Regions from separate parts of the Homo sapiens genome. Here region 2 is linked to region 1. Evidence: fine-mapped expression QTL. Tissue or cell type: monocytes after LPS. Region 1 holds a variant in brackets; the other region holds the start of a gene. All regions are shown on one strand. Distances are from middle to middle.

Region 1 (2,685 bases):
TCAGATATAGTACTTGTAGAGTAATAAATAATAAAAATAAAAACAATATATTTTAACATATAAAATTTTTAAGAAATGATAAAACATAAAGCTAAAACTCCATTTTGAAATAAAATTATCTTGAGAGAATACAGAATTTCTAAAAGTTCTATATATGAATAATTCATGAACATCTTGAATGTACCCTGCTCTTCTAACCTAGGAATTCCACTACTATGTCCCCGGAGTTGCAATTACCTTCCACAGTGAACCACAACAGCAACAAGGTCGTACATTCTGTCTGGATTGGTGGCATCACCTGAAGTGTTAAACAGACGAAGTTCTAAAGGAAAAACTACCCGGTAAGAGAGTTTTGTATATCGATGAAGTTGATCCATATATTTAAATCTCTTCAGGTGTAGAGCTAGAATCATGGGCAGTTTTTTAACTTTCATCCTATTAAAAATAAAAATGAAAACAAAATTTCATAAAAGATATCCACCATGTCCTTGAATTATCAAACTTTACGATATCCAATGAACAGATAGACAATGGTCAGTTTTAATAGCCCAGCAATGCCCAGTTTTGCACATTTCTATCAATTATTTTTATACTGACAAAACAACATTCTGAACATCTTAATATGACCCCACCCTACCCATCATTGTCACACCACATAATTTGACACAGCACTCAATATGGCTCCAAAACAGATGGAATGGCGTTAGTCCTTGGTTAAGGAATCTGTATTTTTCAAACACACGTCTCTTATAATAAGGCTAAATGCACGGGGTGCTCAAGAGTGGTAGAGGGAAGGCCAGGCGCGGTGGCTCACGCCTGTAATCCCAACACTTTGGGAGGCCGAGGCAGGTGGATCACCTGAGGTCATGAGTTCAAGACCAGCCTGGCTAACATGGTGAAACCCTGTCTCTACTAAAAATACAAAAAATAGCCGGGCATAGTGGCAGGCGCCCATAGTCCCAGCTACTCGGGAAGCTGGGGCAGGAGAATCGCTTGAACCCAGGAGGCGGAGGTTGCAGTGAGCTGAGATCACGCCACTGCACTCCAGCCTGGGTGACAGAGCAAGGCTCCGTCT[C/CA]AAAAAAAAAAAAAAAAAAGAGTGGTAGAGGGAAAACAAGTTTCTTGAAACTGACAATTCCTTTGGACTTGGGTAGACTGAAATCTATTTTTTCTATCAATCTATATGATGCAGGTACAGACTGACAATAGGAGACTAAAACAATAAAAGCACTAAAGACCAATCAAGGTGCTTGTCAGAGACAAGAAATAACTCCATATTAAGAAAAATGACAATGTATATCCTAGAAAGGGAGTAAAATAACCTGGAAACTTAGGAGTTAAGTTTTTAACTGTGAAACACAGGCTGTTCTTCATGTTCTAAACAATCTTTATTATGCCTTTAAATGCCATTTCTCCCTGAGAGTGCCTTTGTACTCCTACTTCACCTAAAAATCTATTCTTCTTTTAATGGCTCAGCTCAAATGTCACACCCTCTGGCACAAATACACCTGCTCTCTTCAATCCTCCATCAGCACCTTACAGGTTCACTTTATATATGTCAAGCTTATTACATGGTAACAATTTTAGGTGATTATGGTTCTTTTCTTCTAGGCCCTGAACTCTTGGCAGCTAGAAAGCATTCCCTTCATTTTTATTTCCCCACTATCTAGCAACATGCCTGACATATGATAGATGCCAAATGCTGCAGAACTGAATTTTAAATGGGTCTGGTGAAGCAAAATACTCCTCACAATTTAAAGAAGTGATATATGGTAAGCCACTGCCTCTAATAAGTGAAAAAAAAAATCATTTTATAACATTATACTAAATCTGCATTCTACACTTCTTAAATATGGTGGATAGCTTATTATTCCTAAATTACTTACTAGTGAATGAACTTGGCCTTTTGGAAACATTAGCCAAAGTAAAGGTAAACACCTAGTCACTCCTAGAAAGCAATCCACCAATATAAATTAGGAGCCTTTATGGCCTTTGTCTCAGTAATCCTATTTCTGGAAATACAATTAAATGTATAATCTCAAAAACATCCCTTATGAGAATAATCTCCTATTAGAGTTCTTTTACATTGTAAAAAATCCCAACTATTCAGCAACAGGAAATGTGGAAATAAATTAGAATTCAAACATAACCGAGTGTTGTACAACTTAAATAAAACAATGCTGATGAAAGTTTCTAGGTGACATAAGAAAATACTTAAGAAGTCAGGATATAAAATTATACATAAAATATAATTCAACTATGAAACATCAGACCTTTTATTAAACCCACATAGAGTTACTGAAAAGAAATCTTTACAAAACAACAAGGTATCCTTTGAGAATTTCCAATGGATGGTAGATGCAAAAGAAGAATTTTCTGAGCATAAAATGAGTGTCAGTGCACTATTAATAAATGGCAGTCAGGTAAGATTAGGAGGAGGAAAGAGAATGAACATGGCCCGATGGTTAGGGAAAATGTGCTTTTAGAAATTACACAAGGGGAGGAGTCCAAATGCAGAAAAGAGAAAATATCTCAATAATAGCAGATACAATATGTTTAATAAGATAACACATGAAGAATATGAATCCTATTTGCCAAAGATCCTCCCAGAGGAGAAGTGCTGGCTACCACAAAGAAACCAACTACCCATGGAATTGTCAAGCAAAAATATGTGTGGAGCCATATTTT
Region 2 (2,685 bases), 95 kb after region 1:
AAATAGGGCCAGTGAGGCATGAAACACAAGATTTCAGAAGTCTCTAATAACAACCACTAGGCCCACGTTGCAAAGAACAACTTTTTTCGGTGATGACTCATAAATTATGATCCCTACATATAAGCTCATGAGGAACTAATGAAACGAATTTGTCTCATCATGTGGAAAACTGTGGTCCTTCTGGCCACGCACAAAACACCAAGTTTTAAACGCGCCCACGTTTTGCTTAATTCGGGACTTCCAGCGGGCATTAGCACTTTTCCCTTACAGTCTATTTAAACGCCCTAGGAAAACAAATACCATCGCCTTGGCAGGCGGTCCCCGCACAGACAGACCTAGCTCCAGCCACATACAGATGTGTCTGGTGGGCTGAAGTAAACAAATGACAGGAAAGCTAATGCTGCTTTTCAAGATTAACGTGCATTCCCAGAGACAAGACTGCCACCTGGACACACGGCTGGAAACGGGAGAGCTCGTGCCTCTCAGAGGAGAAAATGGAGAGAATTTCAACAGTACTTATTTAAAGTTTCCACCTTCACACACGCCCCTTTCCCCCAGCGCGGGGTCGGGGACTCGGCCCAGCCAGCGGCGCGAGGAAATCTGCACTTGACTTCCGTCCTCTCCCAGGCGGGAATGAGCGCTGCCCGCCCCGGCCGAGACCCTTCCTTCCTGCCCGCCGACCCCCACCCCTCCCGGGGACCCCTCCCGCTCGGCGCGCGACCAGAAGGAAATGGAGCCCGCGCGGCTCCGCGCCCCCTCCCCGACGACCCCGGCCCGGGGCCGCGCTCTGGCTCGCGCGCGCCCACCCCTCACCCCGGCACAGGCCGGGCGCGCCTCGGCCCTCGTCCCCGCGTCCCGAGCGGACCCCAGCAGTTCAGCCGGGGACTCCCGGAGGCCGGTGCCCGCCCGACGCCGCGTCTGGCACGGTCGCCCACTCACCGCTACCCTCGCGCCGCCCTGGCCCACCAGGCGGCGCCCCCTCCCCAGCCGCCTGGGCCGCTCACCCCCGCGCTCCCCGCCTGCGCGCCGTCCAACCGCCCCCGCCCGGGCCGCCCGGGCCGCCCAGCCCGCCCGCCCGCCCCGGCGCTAGGCCCCGCGAGCGGCCACTGGGAGAGGCGGGTCCAGCGCCGCCCGCCCGCCCGAGAGGTCCCGGCAGCCCCGGCCGCCCGCTCGCCGCCACCTACCATGGTACAGATGGAGGCGAATTTGGAGACTGTCATTAGGATTTCCATCCGGCCAGCGCCATCTTCCACCCAATCACAGCGGCGGCGGCGGGCGGGGGAGGAGGGGAGCCGGGCCGCCCGCTCGCACCGCAGCCCGCGGGCGGACCCCGAGCCGCCGCGGACCCAACCACCGAGCCCGCTGGGCCGCCGCTGCCGTCGTCGCCGCCGGCGCTCAGGCACTCCCGGCCTCGGGCCCCAGCCCCCGCCTGCCGGCCGCCGGCCCGCCCCCGGCTCCGCCCCGGCGCAGGGCGCAGCCGCTGCCTCCGGGCCCGCGCCTGCACGCGAAGCCGCCCTCCGCCCACCCCGCCCAGCGCACAGGGGAGCGGGCTCCGCCGAGGCCCTAATGCCCGGCCTGCCAGGCAGCGGCGCGGCCAGGCGGCGCAGCCCCGCCCACCCCTCGGCAACCCCTCCGCGGCCCTTGTGCGCGAGCCGGGGAACTCCGGTCCGTCCCCACCCCGCGCGCGGCAGAGGGCAGGACCGAAGGCGGGCGCCACCTCCTGCCCGCGTCCCTGCGGTCCTAGAGCCGGGGACCCAGAGACCCCCGCGTAGGAAGGGGTGCGGCGGGGAGGCGCGGGGGTGGCGGCGGCGATCTGGGAGAACCCTGGAGGGGACCAGCTGCGACACCCACCGCGGGCGAGGGGACGGCGAGCCCCCGCTGCCTAAACAGAAAACGGAGGCGATGATCTGGGTAACTACGGGCGGAGTGGGAGGAAACCTGCTCTGCACAGTTAAGATAACCCGGGTATGCGTCCCAAGCACTTGGTTTGTTTCTTTTTACGTATATTGGATGAATCACCGGAGTCAAACACAACTTAGAAAAAGACAAAATAATTAAACAAAAATGAAGAGGCAAAGAACAAATTACACATGTTTAACTCTTTGAATTAAGAAGAAAGATAAGTAATGGGGGAAGGAGAGGAGCGAAACCTGTTGGCCTGTTGGCGATAAATTTATAATAGGCTTCTAAATATCTGCACATTGAGCTGCAAAATAGGGAGGATCTCAAGCCAGCAGTGATGATGATATTACCAGAGACAGGAAGCCCGCAAGCAAGAAAAATGCCCTGTGAGAAATCCTTAGGCAGTGCTGGCTACTGGCATGGGTAGTTCCTCTTTCTCCTTTTATAAAATTCATATTTGCACCCTGTTCTTCATGCCTGGCAGCTCAGCTTTATTTTTTCCTATTTGAGAAAGTAGTTCAAGTGAGTAGAATAACTTCATAAATTATTATGTTAGAAAGCTTGTGATATTTTCTGATTGAACTCGTGATGGGGTACTTTTCTGGGTTCCCCTAATTCAGTGGGGTTGAGGATCTGAATTCAGGCAGAGCTGTAAAATCAGAAATGCCTCACCTCAAGGGTTCAAAGCACTCAAAAACAAAAAGCATTCAAACAAAATTTAAGTGAAAAATAGACTTCTGGTACATGAATACTGTTTCCATAGTGATTCCATTATAAGCTTGC

Alleles and levels. Positions count from the first base shown, and alleles are read on the strand shown. Sizes are in standard deviations (SD) of each study's normalised expression.
As copies of CA replace C in region 1, the expression in monocytes after LPS of the gene that starts at base 1,404 in region 2 goes up (moderate effect, 0.63 SD a copy in Kim-Hellmuth 2017).

What was found. PIP is the estimated chance that this variant, and not a neighbour inherited with it, causes the effect.
Region 2: it holds the start of USP12, and the variant in region 1 is fine-mapped to the expression of USP12 in monocytes after LPS (Kim-Hellmuth 2017, PIP 0.95).

Annotation. Positions count from the first base shown.
Region 1 is chr13:27,074,954-27,077,638 of GRCh38, forward strand. It overlaps USP12 (ubiquitin specific peptidase 12), which reads right to left. Exons shown (of 9, transcript NM_182488.4): 7 at 238-435. It also overlaps the pseudogene RBBP8P2. Among named protein-coding and RNA genes, the nearest start is that of USP12-AS1, 49 kb to the right of the region's middle. The variant C/CA (reference allele first, on the strand shown) is at 1,076.
Region 2 is chr13:27,170,408-27,173,092 of GRCh38, forward strand. USP12 (ubiquitin specific peptidase 12) reads right to left here and starts at 1,404. Exons shown (of 9, transcript NM_182488.4): 1 at 1,185-1,404. The coding sequence starts at 1,232. It overlaps USP12-DT (USP12 divergent transcript), which reads left to right and starts at 1,852. Exons shown (of 2, transcript NR_046548.1): 1 at 1,852-1,965. RefSeq lists enhancers at 381-490, 1,991-2,180 and silencers at 731-780, 811-880, 951-1,040, 1,101-1,150, 1,291-1,930.